3 separate regions of the Homo sapiens genome follow, and regions 2 and 3 are each reported to be linked to region 1. Evidence: microRNA targets listed by miRTarBase, many of them from high-throughput screens and not tested one by one. Region 1 holds a microRNA gene; each other region holds the end of a gene's coding sequence.

The links. Region 1 holds the annotated microRNA hsa-miR-335-3p (UUUUUCAUUAUUGCUCCUGACC, at 2,900-2,921, opposite strand). A microRNA usually pairs through its seed, bases 2 to 8, with sites in the 3' UTR of a target mRNA and lowers its output. Matches are read on the target gene's strand: a 7mer-m8 pairs with bases 2 to 8, a 7mer-A1 pairs with bases 2 to 7 and ends in A, and an 8mer does both.
Region 2: the mRNA of FOXP1 is a reported target of hsa-miR-335-3p. Seed matches in the 3' UTR shown: 7mer-A1 at 640-646, 7mer-A1 at 1,546-1,552, 7mer-A1 at 3,324-3,330 and 8mer at 4,455-4,462.
Region 3: the mRNA of MIDN is a reported target of hsa-miR-335-3p. Seed matches in the 3' UTR shown: 7mer-A1 at 1,851-1,857, 7mer-m8 at 2,727-2,733 and 7mer-A1 at 2,742-2,748.

The regions. Positions count from the first base shown.
Region 1 is chr7:130,494,009-130,499,082 of GRCh38, reverse strand. It overlaps MIR335 (microRNA 335), which reads right to left and starts at 2,972; the gene lies at 2,879-2,972. MEST (mesoderm specific transcript) reads right to left here. Exons shown (of 12, transcript NM_002402.4): 2 at 3,561-3,715; 3 at 1,848-1,927; 4 at 1,070-1,147; 5 at 808-944; 6 at 606-664.
Region 2 is chr3:70,954,609-70,959,682 of GRCh38, reverse strand. FOXP1 (forkhead box P1) reads left to right here. Exons shown (of 21, transcript NM_001349338.3): 21 at 292-4,975. The coding sequence ends at 436. Among named protein-coding and RNA genes, the nearest start is that of FOXP1-AS1, 330 kb to the left of the region's middle.
Region 3 is chr19:1,256,338-1,261,411 of GRCh38, forward strand. It overlaps MIDN (midnolin), which reads left to right. Exons shown (of 9, transcript NM_001388306.1): 9 at 658-2,806. The coding sequence ends at 935. It also overlaps LOC107985303. Among named protein-coding and RNA genes, the nearest start is that of MIDN, 10 kb to the left of the region's middle. RefSeq lists enhancers at 2,654-2,803, 3,224-3,383, 5,034-5,074 and silencers at 3,824-4,743, 4,754-4,993.

The DNA of each region.
Region 1 (5,074 bases):
TCGGCTTTAAGCAGAATGAGGTACAGCAGGTCCTTGAATAACATCCTTTCTTTAAAACATTGATGAGAAAAAAAATTGGTTCCATTATAACGTTTCATTTAAAGTCACAGTTTCCAAGAACCCATTGATGACATTAAGTAAGGATTTTCTACACTAACATCATAGTAGTATTAGAAACACTTGTGGCTTTTTTCTGTATCTTCAATCCTACACTCTCATAACCTATTGCAGTTGTTTCAGATATGGCAAACAGTCTTTACACTCCTCACTCCTTCTGATATAGCTGTTACTAGGTCCTCCACTAGAACTTGCTATCTAATGCATTGAAAAAGCACATGTGACTATAATGCAGCTTTTTATTGACTATGTAAGTAAAGTCACTATCCTTTGTAATGCTGTTTGTTTCTTTATTTTAAAACATTCTGAGAAAGGGTCCATAAATCTTGTCAGACCACCAAAGGAGTTGATGGCACAGAAGAGGTAGAGATCCCATAGTTTAATTATGTCTACTTGAAATATTATCAGATTACCATTTAGGTGCCGCTGTATCTAAAGATGGCCCTTCTAGATTACACCCACTTTCTACCTACCGCCAAGGCAATTACCTCCATTTGACAGACAGAGACTCTTTATGGTAAGCCGACCAGATCGATTCTGCTTGTACCTAGAAGGGAGACGAGGAAACACACATGTAGCTGAGCAAACTTAAACCAGTGCACCGCTGAAAACGAGAGAAAAAGGATACAAACAGTCCAGAAACAATGTACTTTCCTAGCATCATAAGCTGAAGTCTGAAGCTCCACTGACCTGTAGAGAAGCTCCTGAGCAACAATATCTCCATAGTCATGAGAAAGAAGGTTGATCCTGCGGTTCTGGAGCCCCAGATGCCGCAAAAGCGCTTCCACGATGCTGGCCTGCTCAAATATGGAATAGTGATGTGGTCTCTGAGGAAAGGAAAGCCCACATACACAGGATGAAGTCATGAGGACAGCTCTCTCTGCCAGCCTGACCCTCATAGTCTGCGTCTGCCCCCACACCCCATCACCAGCCCCACATAGGTGCTGCTTACCGGTTTGTCACTGAAGCCAAAGCCTAAGAAATCAAGGGCAATCACCCGATGAAACCTCAAGGTCAGACCTTCCCAAATCTACAAGAAAGAAACGATGATTTGGGCTTTCTGCTCCTGCCCCTCCCTTTCACCAGACCTACAGTTGCACAGGAGCTTCAGCCCTATCTTGGCTTAACAGACTTCCATAAAGAGAAAACGCCATGAAACTACCACAGGTCCCACAGATGATCCTCTTGGAAAATGCTTTATTCCTGGTAATTAATCCCTGTTGAGGGAGGGTAACTTGGCAGTGATCCCTTCCAGAGTGCCAAGGAGTTGTTTATTCCCTTCAGTAAATAAGGAACAGTTCAACATTTAATGTTTTTTTAAAAGCAATTCAAATGTGCAAGAGCCTTCTGGTGCTGACAACAAAATCCTTGAGGTTTTTTAAATTTTTATTAAAAAAAAATTTTTTTTTGAGACAGACTCTCGCTCTGTCACCTAGGCTGAAGTGCAGTGGTGCAATCTCAGCTCACTGCAACCTCTGCCTCCCGGGTTCAAGCGATTCTCCTGCCTCAGCCTCCCAAGTAGCTGGGATTACAGGCTTGTGCCACCATGCCTGGCCAATTTTTATACTTTTAGTAGAGATGGGGTTTTGCCATGTTGGCCTGGCTGGTCTCAAACTCCTGACCTCAGGTCATCCTCCCACCTCAGCCTCCCAAAGTGCTAGGATTTGAGCCCCCGCGCCCGGCCGAGATTTTTTAAGACATAGTAGGACGTAGAAGTCTGACTTCATTACCTTGTACCAGTCGTAGCTGGATGTTGGAAAACCGTGTAAAAGCACAACTATCTCTGGACTTCCAACCACACCCACAGAGTCTAGGAAGAAGGAAAGTACAATCAATTATGCCAAATCCCTATAAAAATAACCTCGAAGATGTTAAAATCTAAGTAATCTGATACAAAGAACAAGCAACTGTGACCAAATTGACATTAAAATGACACAATTATTTGTAAAATGTAAGCTTAACTGCGTTAGGTGAGAACAGGCCTTTTCTCCTTTCAATCTGTATATTAAAACATTGTAAAAATCATGCTATGTGAAAATACTTGAAGGCACCTTGTTTACTTTCACCTAGGTGTTTTTAAACAGCATCTCCCCATTTCTCCTTTTGTTCTGTAATATGCAAATTTTTTCAGTGAAAAGTAAATTTTCAGTTAAAAGCATATGATCACAACACATAAACTACAAATTCTTTGTACTTTATCATGAATGGCCTCACAGAAATTCTCTAAGATACAGCAACTATTCCCAAGGAACACCTTTAGCTTATGCTGTTTGCTCAGCACTTTTTATTCAGCAGGAGACCCAATCTAACATCAAAAACATAATAAAACTATTACAAAATCCTGTCAACTATAAAAAGGGCTTAATCAACATAAACATGAACTTTTTTAATGCATATGACAATATGGAAGCATTCAGCATCATCTAAATTAGGTAAACATTTAGACAATATTAACCTTGCTAATAGTATGGGATTAGAACAGGTATATTCATATACTGCCAGTGACATGAAAATTTGGTAATAAGGTTTTCAAAAATAATTTAGAAGCAGTTAAAAATTGTATATACTTTAGCCTAAGAGTTTTGTTCTTGAGAATCTGTGCAAATAAAATCATTCCATTTATACAAGTAGTATAGTTTGAAAATGTAAGGAAAAAATAAACTGTATGGACATGAAGCTTTTACTTCAACATTAGTTTTCTAAAACAGTAAAACTGGAAGTAACCCAAGCCAACATAATAAAAATTGTATACTTACTTAATTGAATATAGCAAATGAGAGGAGGTCAGGAGCAATAATGAAAAACGGTTTATGACAAACATTTTTCGTTATTGCTCTTGACCCCCGCTCAAAACAAATCATTTCCAATCTGTTTCTCAGTTTCTTCACCTATAAAATGAGGTTAATGGCACCTATCTCCAAATGCTGTTGTAAAGATTAAACAATGAAGGCTGAAAACATAACTCAGTGCCTGGCATATGGTAATTACTTGATAAGTAGTGGTCATAATAATCATCATCACTAGCAAATTAATTTATATAATGGTATCAAGACTTAAATCACAGTTACACTACAAATAATCTACAGAAAAAATGAAATCAGGGATGGTAAGGAGAGAGAACCAATGGTGGTTATATCTATTAATATTTTATATATTACCTGACAGGTTGCTCAAAAAAAAAAAAAAACTAATATTGGAATACATATCAAGCTACAAAGAAAACTTATACTAAAAGGTAAGGTCTGCAGGTTGGAATCTCAGTCCCTACCCCCATTCTCCCAGCAGTTTTCTGCGCTTCTCTGCAAGCACACTACACAGAAAGAGAGAGAGATACTCTCCTCCATCATTAAGGAGCAACAAGAGACCAATAGCCACAAAATAAATACCTCAGCTGGGACTTATGTGACCGATACACGCAGGACTTCCAATAGTCCACTTCTTACCTTGGTAGAAGATACGCAGTCCCTTGTAAGTGAAAAACTTGCCTGAAGACTTCCATGAGTGAAGGGCAGGGGAGAGCTGAGGGGGTGGGATGTGCAGGTACGCAGCAAGCAGGGGCACGGCCAGCAGCCCCACCTGGACCCACCACTCCCTCATCCTGTAGGAAAAGCAGAGACCCACTGTAAGCAGTCAGGTAACATTGTCCACTCATCTACAAACCAAAACCTGGTAAGATGGGGTGGGAGATTGCTGTTACCATGCAATGATTACATTGCCCTTCACATAGGCACAAAGCTGACCGAGACTATAATCAAACCTCTGTCTGCCATAGCACTCACCATATTTGTTCATCATTCTAATCTTAAGGAAAAAAAATACATTATTTCAACATATAATCTTCTGCCTCTGCTCCCCGACTTTAACCCCTTAGCCCCTACCCTTGTGGTCTTCCCAATACCTGCTGAAGAGGACTTTATATAAATAAAAGGGACATGACTTAAATGCTGGACACTCTTTCGTTGACTTTTATCAAGGCTTCCCAGGAAAAAAATAACTTCTTTCTTATTTACTCCAAAAGCTCTACCATCTACCCACTACCCCCAACCAGTAAAATGTTCAAAAAATATATATGTGCTATATCTCATGTTTTAAAGAGTGTGTGTGTGTAGTAACTTATCACATGTCCTCAAGCAGAGAGCTACTCCTGATTTTCAGCCCTCCTGCCTAAATGAAGCCCCATTTAGTACTCCTTTCTGGATTTGGGCTGAGAAACTGCTCAGGGTAAACAGTCTGTGAAAGTAAGATAGCTGCACTGTGTATTCCAACATAAGCAGCTTTGTCATGACCCTGAATATCTAATCTCTTGAGAGGTCAAGGCGGTAGATTACATTTCTGCTTTTCTTAGCAGACTCTTTAAGTTTCCATTTAATTTCCTAAGATGCTCCCCCACCCCCAGATAAGGCATAACTCATACCCAGCGTGTGAGAATTGATTTTGTCTTTGGAAAAAGAGCACTGGTTGGTACACCCAACCCTCCCATGCCCAGGACTTCAAAGGCACAAGTCAGTTTATCCACATTGACAAGGAGTGCCAAACAGGAATTATAAACCGTTCTGTTTCAAGTCTATGACTTCTGATGGTCAACAGATCAAGAATTGTCAGTAGAATGGAAGTTCTCTCAAAACAGCCAGAATGGAAATAATACCCTCCAAAACTAAAATTAGAGTTGTCATAGAGCTGAAATAAATTAATTGCTAAAGCCCTGGGGGAAATGGCTTTCCGTCTGTACACACATTCTTCCCTATTGCCTGTAATCTACCTACCCGTTCGCTAACTTCCTCAACTTACAAGATACTTTTCCCCCCCATATCCCTGATACTTTTTGCTAAAATCTAAAAACAAGCCTGTGGTTTTACAGTGGTAAAATAACCATGTTTCTTAAACAATGTCAGCTCCCCAGGCTATTTTTTAGGCATTATTAGGGCAGTCATTTCTTTTTTTCTCCAAAGTACCTGTC
Region 2 (5,074 bases), not on the chromosome of region 1:
TTTACGCAGTGATGCAAATGTTCCGTCTGTCTCTGTGCTGGCCAGAATTAACCGCTAGTCACATGGGGCCTTTGAACATAAATGTGGCTAGCACAACTCAGAAACTGAATATTAAATGTAGTAAGATTTCGTTCATTTCAATTTAAAGAGCCACGTGTGGCTAATGGTAACAATACTGGACAGAGTTCTAGTTCTAGAGTGCGGCTTTTCTGTTGCCCCAAACTTTTCAGTGCACCTGAGCTGCAATGGGCTGGGAAGTACCCTCACTGAACCTCTGCATATTTTTTCCAGGCATCCTGTACACGTCAAAGAAGAGCCCCTCGATCCAGAGGAAGCTGAAGGGCCCCTGTCCTTAGTGACAACAGCCAACCACAGTCCAGATTTTGACCATGACAGAGATTACGAAGATGAACCAGTAAACGAGGACATGGAGTGACTATCGGGGCGGGCCAACCCCGAGAATGAAGATTGGAAAAAGGAAAAAAAAAAAAACACGTCAAAAGTTAGCAGTGAAATTGTTCTCCATTTGTTGTACAGTCTGGAGGATTTTCACTACGTTTTGACAACTCTGAAATGTGTTAACTCTTAGTGCCATCAAGAACCCCATTTGGGAGTATTTTTGATTTTTCTACTTTTTGTTGAAAAAAGGAATTTGTACTCTGTGCATTGGATGGACTTGTTTGGTACTTGGGATTTTCCTCTCTTAACCGTCAACATCAGTGTTGTAAATTTGCTAAACTGATTCACTTTTAGCAGCAGACTTTGAACTGCAGTCCTGCCAACGTTGGACACTGAGGACGCCCGACAGAGCTTGTGCACCTAAGCTGCAGACCAAGCCTTTGCCCAGAATTTAAGGATTCCAATGGACGACCTATTTGCACAGTACTGCATGTTGATTATCACTGCCTTTACTCCTTTTTTTTTTTTTTTTTTTTTTTTTTTTTTGCTTCCAGTTGGGATGGGGAAGGCCTTTGTGTGTGTATTGGGGGGAGGGGTTAAAAAATAATTATCCCAAACTTTTTAATGTATTGCTTTTTTTTTTTTTTTTTTTCCTTCTACTATACCATTTTAAGTTCTGACCTCAGGCCTCCATTTGGGCCGATGGCCTCTTGGAGGCTTAAAGTTTTCTGTACCTTGTGATGAATGTTAATAGGTGTTTTTATTATACAAAGCTGAATGTCATTTCTCGTTTGTAGCTTTCTGTCACTCATTCCATCTTCCTTCAGACATCACCACGTTTCTCTAAAGTCAGAAAACATTCCGTTTTGGTCTTTTTCAAAAAGGTCCCAAATGCTGCACTCTACACATGAAGGCCCTCTCACACAGACGTGACGTCCTGCCAGAAAGAGAATGAATGACAGAAAAAAAAAAGAGAGACAAACTCTAGGAACAATGCCGATTCATTCCACGCAGCAGTATTGGGGGTGGTTCGGGGGAGGGGTGTTTCGGATTTTCTTTTTTTCTTTTCTTTTCTTTTTTTTTTTTTGCAGCAACCATTAATAAATGCCACCACATTCTACCAGCACAAGGAAACATAGGCAGCACTGAAAAAAAAAAAAAAGCTCATATTAATTAGACTGACAATATGGCCTTGGAAGGCTCTCCCTTGTGGAACCAAGTTGCCATGGGCCTTGGGTGCTCTGCGATAACGGGTGTGGGTTGGTTTTGTTTGCAAAATGGCCAAAAAAAAAAACCGGCTTCCCCGAGCAGCTGCCCTGAAAGTAGGGGTGGCGGCGGCGGCGCTGAGTTTATACATTAGTTCAGACCTACTTGGTGGCATTAAACTGTTTGAATGCAAATTCGATTTCAGATTGAACTTGTTAAGGGAGTTAACGAGGGCTGAGTTCAGCAAATGCTAAAGTGTTAATTTCAAATATGCAAATTTGGTACTGCAGTTTGTTATGCAATATTATATCACCAACCCAGTATCACAAAAACTCATAGAAGATATCATGTAGGCCCTGGGCTTTGGGGGGGTCCCAAACATGGTATGCAGAAATGTGATGGTTACAGGTCAGTACAACCTCAGTCCTTAGAACCCCTCCACACTTCAGCTCTGCACCCACTTTCCTGTCATTTATTTATATAGGACTGTAGTTTTTTTTAGTTCGAGAGCCTTTCGAAGCTTAATTTATATTCTTTCTTTGTACCTTTTTTCTAAAATTACCAAAGATATTACACAAAGGTAAATTATGTTCTCTGTTTTATGCTTTATCTGATGAAGCCAAATATCCTCTTATTGTTGATCAAAGGAGGCAAAAGAATTTAGAGGCAAATGACAAGCGATAGGCTATTGCAACCTGAGAAAGAGAACTGCTCCTTCATCGTAAATTTAGAAGACCAAGTAGATAATGGAACCAAAGTTGTTACTTTTTTCTAGTAGTTATTTTTCCTTTTTCTTTTTGTGTACCTCTACAGAGACCAAAACTCATTCTCTTAAAGAGATTTTATGGGGCTACTGCAGATAAAAATAGGACACAATATTAAAGGAGCTACAGAAGGAAGGGAGTCCCATCTCAAAAAAAAAATGAATGTATGCCACTGCAATTAGAGTATCCAATAAAGGAGACAGTTTAGAGTCAGGACAGAAAAGCTTCCATAATTGAACTAGATTACATAATAGTATTTCTAGAAAAAGAGATATTTTTAGATTGTATGCCACTTTTGTTTAAGAACTGTGCTGTGATCACTGTATTAATTTTGGTTTATCTTGGCATATATCCTTCAGTTTGTTTTTATTTTTAATTTTTCCTTTTTTTCCGATTAGGCTTTGGTCAGCATTTTTCATTTAAAGAAAAGTAACACTCCCATCCACTCATAAGCTTGGTACAAAAACTTCTCTGGCAGTTACTTTTGAAGCTTCACTCTGCTTTCTGTATAAAGGGCAGTCTGTGGTCACGCAAGACTTTAAAAAAAAAAAAAAAAAAAAAAAAAAAAAAAAAAAAAAAAACTTTTCCAGGCAGCTTCATGATGTGCAGGCAGTAGCCAGACAGGGTCATGGGAAGGGGGCCCTGTGCTTCTAAACTGAGTGGTTGCTGGTTAGTTTGGTATTCAAAAGAGGATAAAAATCTGGTAGATTAGTTCATTCTCAGCATGTGTAGCTAGACATGAGTAAAGATAACAGCATGAGAAACTGTTAGTACGCATACCTCAGTTCAAACCTTTAGGGAATGATTAAAATTTAAAAAAAAAACATTTCACTCAGTTGCACTTAGTCGTATGTCTTGCATGCTTAGTCTAAAGACTGTAGCAAAAAAAAAAAAAAAAGAAAAATTAGATTTTACATATCTTTGCAGGTATCACAGCCTTGCAGAAGAACCAACTGAAAAAAAAATTCTCAGGCTTTACAGCAAGCAAACTTCACTATGATTTTTACAATTCTGATTCTGTATCCCCTGGGGGTTATCCCAGTTGCTTCTTTAGGATGGGGTTTATTACGTTGTACATATATCCCGATGTGTCTGTGTGAATCTTTGTCTTTTTTGGGGGAGGGCAGAGGGCGGTTCTTTTTTTAGATATTGTTCCTAAAAAGGAATAAATGCATACACCTGTTTGTCAAAACACCTTTGCTTTTTGTGCAACTGCTTTATATTAACGATACTAAAAAAAAATAGCTTTGGAAAAAAAACTACTGTATGTAACGGAATTGCAGAATATGCTGCACATGTATTTTATTTAGTTATCCTTGCTTTAAGAATATTGGATGACATTTCCTGACATGTGGGAGGGAGAAACTCCCTAACTTTTTTTTTCTGCTTTTAAACTGTAACATAGTTGAAGATTTCTTTTTTCTGTTCTCATTGATTGGAGCATTTTGTACAGGTTTTGTGTGTGTGTGTGTGTGTGTGTGCGCGCGTGCGTGTGTGTTAATCTGTTTTTTGATACATTCCTATCCCTTGTGTTTATCCTACCACTGCCTTCCTGGCTATCTTAAACAAGTTCATACATTTGAAAAGAAAAAAAAATGTTGTTTAAAAAATGTTTTCTCCTGCTGCAGTAAATATTTTGCATGATGAAATTCCAGGGTCACACTTTTCCAAGTTTATCAGTGAAGTAGTGATTAACAATGGGGAGTGTCAAAACTATTGAACTTTTGTATAAAAAAAAAAAAACTTTACAAGGTGCCAAGATGTAAAGAAAATCTGTTACTTTTTTTTTCTCAAAGAAAAGCATACATTAGGGAGGTAGTCCCGTGTGTCAGACAAATGCACTGTCAGGAATGAGGATCCAACCTACCTGTCCCTAGAGTCCGTCTTGTAAGATGAGTTAGGCTGCCCCTTGGACCAGCCACAAAATGGAATATCAAGGCTTATGTACATACGTGAAGAGTTACCACCAGTCCTGCCACCTTTGGACAGCTCTAACACCATCCCCAGCATCCAGTCAGACCTAGTAAAGAAAACCTTGGATTCTTAACCCAAGATAGGCTGTAAATCACTAGCTTTTTTTTCCTCATGAAAAAAAATAGAGTTAAAAAATATTTCCTCTCTTTTCCATATTCCAGCTGAACTCCGTTTCCAAAGGCACAAAGAAGAGTGTGCTTATTCAGATTTTGAATCTTTTTGGTACCTTTTGGTTAATGACATAGCCTCCTGAAATTCTGGATGTCTTCAAAGTCAGTTTTGCTTCTTTATCCTGAAAATCAGATTTACAATGCTGAAGGCATTTCTTGGGCCCAGTGTAGCTCACGCAATCTCTGCTACCCATAAGCCTTGATGAAGATGATACAGTCCGGACTGTGAGCATGGTGCTTCATGTATATGTGCTGCCAGTAACAAGAATTTTTTTGTTTTGTTTTGTTTTGTTTTGATAAGGCATAAAAGAAACTCATTCCTTGACATCAACTGTAATTCCATCATTCCATGTCTGCGGATACAGACAATAAAAAAAATGTTGTGTAGTCAGTACTAATTACTGACATTATAAGCATTCTCAAATGCAATAAAAATGCTGGTTGTTCACGCTGGTAGTAAAAGTTGCCACAGCCTAAGTTTGTTTCCCTTTCTGACCTGCTGATATTGTATGTTAGGCATATGCCTTAGGTTTATCACCAGCTGCTTCCAATGCAGAATTA
Region 3 (5,074 bases), not on the chromosome of region 1:
CCAGGCGTGGTGGTGGGCGCCTGTAGTCCCAGCTACTCGGGAGGCTGAGACAGGAGAATGGCGTGAACCCAGAGGCGGAGCTTGCAGTGAGCCGAGATCGCGCCACTGCACTCCAGCCTGGGCGACAGAGCGAGACTCCGTCTCAAAAAAAAAAAAAAAAAACCAAGGTACAACCCCCAAGTATCTCCCCTCGGATCACAGAAGCGGCCAAGCCCCCTCCATGTAGGACTCCAGGAAGAATGAGGCAGGACAGTCCTGACCTCCCCAGCTCATGGCTGAGCTGGAGAATTAGAAGCCAGCTGCGTAGCTGGGACTCCAGGCAAACACCACCATGCCCAGCTAATTTTGTAATTTTTGTAGAGGAGGGGTCTCGCTCTGTGGCTCAGGCCTGTCTCGAACTCCTGAGGTTGCCCAGGCCTGTCTCGAACTCCTGAGCTCAAGCGATTCTCCTGCCTCGGCCTCCCAAAGTGCTGAGATTACAGGCGTGAACCACTGTGCCCGGCATGGTGGATGTCCTTGACTGTTTCCTTTGCTGACCTCCCTCCAGGGAGGGCAGGACTGTGTCTGACCTCAGGGGCATTTGCTGGGGTCTGGGGTGGTCCTCTGTGTTCAGCAGGTGGAGGCTTTGGGAGTCACAGGCCACTACCTCCTTTGCAGGGGACCGGCTTCGGCAGACAGAAAACCGCGCCACGCGCTGCAAGGTGGAACGGCTGCAGCTGCTTCTGCAGCAGAAACGGCTCCGTAGAAAGGCCCGGCGGGACGCGCGGGGTCCGTACCACTGGTCACCCAGCCGCAAGGCCGGCCGCAGCGACAGCAGTAGCAGCGGGGGCGGCGGCAGCCCCAGCGAGGCCTCCGGCTTGGGCCTCGACTTCGAGGACTCCGTGTGGAAGCCAGAAGTCAACCCTGACATCAAGTCAGAGTTCGTGGTGGCTTAGGATCTTCGGATCGGCCACCCTCGCCCCTCGCACCCCAGCCCAGGGCGGCGGGGACTCCGAGAGCCCCGGAGAGAACGTGGCCCAGCCCTGGAGGGCAGGCGGCCACTCCCCCAGCCAGAAGTCTTTTTTTCTTTTCTTCTTTTTTATTATTTTTTTCTTTTTTTAAAAAGTTCTGACCGTGGTTTCCTGGACTCTTCATGGGCTTTGCTTCCTACCTCCTTCACCCTTCACTCCTGCCCTCCTCTTCCTCCTCCTCCTCCTCCTCCGTCTGTCTCCTTTCACCTCTGCGCCAGGTCGGTCCTCCCTGCCAACCTTCCCCAGCTCCAATATGTAGCAGTCTCTCTGGATGGCGGAGAGTGAAGGAGACGGAGAAACGCGCCCCATCCCTTCCGCCGCCTCCTTTCCCCCCCGACCCTATTCAGGTTTTAAGTCAAAAATGTCGATATGTCATTATGCACTTTACAGATGAGGGGAGGGGCCGCAGTGCGCAGAACCCACCCCACCCCCCAGTGCAGACTTCGGGGTCTCCACCCCAGGCCAGCAGCGCCCACTGGGCTACAGCAAGCCAACAGGTCACAGAAGCCAACGAGGGGACTGTTTCTCTTCCACTCCTATCCTCTTTTCTTGATCTTTTTTTTGCATTTTCCTTCATTTCTTTAACAAGGAGAGCAAAGCTGTTTTAGCAGAGGCTGGGGCTGAGGTCCCCATGGGGTTTGGGTGCAGGGGCATGGCACCCTTTCCTGTCGGGAAGGGAGAGGGGAACTACCCCCCCAGCCTGCCCTCCGCCCCGCCCCAGCCGGCGGACTGTGCTGTTTCCTCCGCCCCCACTCCCGTGTTTTCTGACCTCCTGCCTGAGTTTGGGGTATTTATAGACTATTAATTTTCTGACTGAGCCAATAGTGGTTGGGGAACTCTTGAAAAAGGGGAGAGAATGGCTGGGTGCTGGGGAGTTCCCCCCTCCGAGCCCTCCTTCCCGGCCCAACCTGAGGGATGTGGATTTGGGACTGTCTGGGGGCCCCTCCTGCAGCGAGGATGGGAGGGGGTGCTGAGCTGTGAATCCCCTGGGCAGGGGGCGACAACTCCGTGTAGCATTAACCCCCGTGGCGGGGTCCGCTGCTGGTCTAATTTGGACCCCCTGCCTCTCAGTGCCCCTGCCCTAGGGGTGTCTGTCTCCAGAGGGGAGGGACAAATCCCCTACTGGGGCCATTTCAATGGGGTAGTTTTTGGATTTTTTTCCCCACTCACTTTTTATTTTTTAATGATAATGGAGATGTCTGGACCCTTCCTCACCCCACCTGTCGGTCTTGTCCTGGCTCTGCCTGTCCCCCACCGTTGTTCTCGTAGGTGAACCCCAGGTCCTCAACTCCCCCCCTTTATGTGTTGAAAGTTAATGGTTTCAGATGTGAACATCACGTGTTATAACTGTAGCGCTGTAAATTTTTTTGTGGGAGGGTGGGCAGGGAGGGGTCCCAGAGGGTAGAGCTCAAGGATTTTGGGTTTTGTTTTGTTTTCATTTTTCCAAAAAAAAAAGAAAAAAAAATAGAAAAAAAAGGAGTAAAAGGGGCGGGTTTGTTTTTTGAAGAACTGTCTTGGATACCTATTTAAATGTGTGTTCTGTTTTGTTTTTTAACGATTTTTAAATAACGTCTGTGCCTCCACTGGTTGAGGGTGGAACCTCCAGGCAGGAACCGGCTCGCCACCCTCTGCCCGGTAAGGGCTGCCCAAGAAAGCATTACCCGCCCTCGGGGGGTCGGGCTGTGGGGGTCCCGGCACCTGGCGTGAGTTTCATGTATGAAAACATAAAATTGAAAAAAAAAAAAAAACCTACACGAGCACCGTGATTTCAAGTAATAAACAGAAAATGAAACACACATTGACTCCCGCCTGCTCGCCTAGTGGGGGGATCTGGCCTTGGTTGGGAGGGTTCCTGGGGTGGGATGTCAGCTCAGGGAGTCAGAGGGACTGACCTGGGTCCCAAGGCCCCGAAGAGGGGGTGGGGCAGGGGTCAGGGCCCTGAGAATTTCCCACGCTCCTTCCCCGGCTGCCGGGTGGGCAGGAAGCAGCCAGGGTGGGAGGGAGGAGCCCAGCCACTTCCTGGTACCCAAGGCCGGAAGTCCCTTAGGGTGTGGGGCGAGGGCCTGCCTGCCTGCTTCGTGGCCTGGGCAGGACCCTGGCCCCCTCAGGACCTGCCAGTATGGGGGAGACGCGACCACCAGCTCTCCCCAGCCACAGGAGTCGGGGACTCCCACTCTGCCACACCCACCTGCTCCCCTTCCTGGAGTCTCACATCTGTGTGGCTTGCTGCAGGGAGATCACCAGGCCGACTGGGAGGACCTAGGACTCCGCAGGGTACCTTGGGCTGGCAGGTGATACAGGCCTGGCTTGACCCAGCCCTGGGGGGCCTCTCTGGCCACACCTCCTGACATTCCAGCCCTTCCCAGACCTGGCCTTCAGCTCCAAACCTCCCGGCCTTTGCCCCCTGTCTAGGAACACCCCTGGTCCGGCTGTCCCTTGCTGTCTGGGAACTTCCCCAGCCTGCGCCTTCCACCCCTGTCCACCCCGTCCCGCAGACCCCACCCTTCCCTCTCTCTGTCCCTAGCCTGGAGCTCCCCGTGAGCCTCACCAGGACTGAGTCCTCTCTGGGGTCCCACCTCCACCCATGTCCGGGCTGGGCAGAGATGAGGCAATAACACTATTTCATGTCTTTTTTTAAATTTTGTAACCTGTATTTCCTCAGGTAACAAGAGTTGCCTATGAGAAGTAATTGGGCTCCCATTTTATAGATGGGAGAACAGAGGCCCAAAGAGGAACATCACTTGGCCCAGAGGATTTGGGGTGTTTGTTCAATGATGTGACCTCCACCCCTTATCCCATCTCTAGGGGCCCCAGTACCGGGAGCCCCCAGGGGAAGGGGCACAGGTTCAGAGAGTGGCCTGGGAGCACCTTCCTGAGACCCCTCTGCCCCTCCCAACGCCCAGTCAACCCCAAATCATCGCACGCCCACGGCAGGAAGGCGGATGCCCAGTCAGGCGGCACCCACCCCCCGCCCCGTCCCTGGTGCGGATGTCCCCTCGGGGCTCAGGGTGGGGGTGCGGGTCACCGACGCCAGGCCTGGGGTCAAGGCGAGGGCCCCAGGGCGCCACCGCCCCCTCGCTGGGCGGGGTGGGAAGGAGGAAGGAGGATGTTGTCTGAAGCACCTGCTGAATCACAGGGGCTGTGTCTGTAGCCTGCAGGGTGGGGGGCGCGTCCCCTGCACTCCAGGACCCGCCCCTCGGGATGCCGACCCCCACCCCAGACTGGGGATCCCAGGGGTCAAGGCTGTGCCCTGGGGGCGTGGGGTGGGGTATGGAGCTCCAGGCTCAGAGCCCTGGCCTGGTAGGGTCAGCCCAACCAGGGGTGCAGCGGGCGGAGGGGCGGCAGGCGGAGGCCAAGTGTGCGTAGGGAAGCACGGAGAGGTAAACTGAGGCACAAAGAGGGCAGGGACCGCTGGGATCTCGCGGGGCGGGGTCGGCCCTGGATCGCTCCCTTCCCCCAACCATTGAGGAAAAAGCTGAATGGGAGGGGGCGGCCCCCGGAAACCCGCCGGGATGGAAACGCGGTTTCCAGGGCAACGCGCCGCGAAAGGAGCCTGACGTCACCCCGGGTAGGGCGCCCTGCCCGCCCCCGTCCGCGCGTCGCGCGGCCCAGGCCCCGCCCACCAGCGGGGAAGCCTCATTGGTGATCGCACCGCTCGCTCATCGGCGTGCCCCAGTAGCAGCGCGACGAAGCCTCCAGAAGGCGGGACTTCAGCCCGGCAGCGCCGAGTGCGCAGGCGCAAGCGCGGAGGCGCTGCAGCCCCGCCTCTCTCCCCGCGCGTCTGCAAAGTTGGGGGCGGGAGGCGCAGCCGAGGGTCTGACGGCTGCGGCGGGGCCTGGACGGAAGAGGGGGCGAGCCCCGGGGCGCCGCACGTGGACCCCCGGCACGGGCACGCTCACGTGCACCCGTCCTTTCACGCCAACGCGTTTCCTGCTGCCCCCACCCCTGCACCACTGCACGTCCCAGACCCCGGCCCAGCCTCCCCGCGGTCCCTAGGCTGGGGGAGCTCAGACAGGAGGCTAGGAGGAGGGGGACTTTGGGGCTGAGGCTTTGCCAAAGGAGCA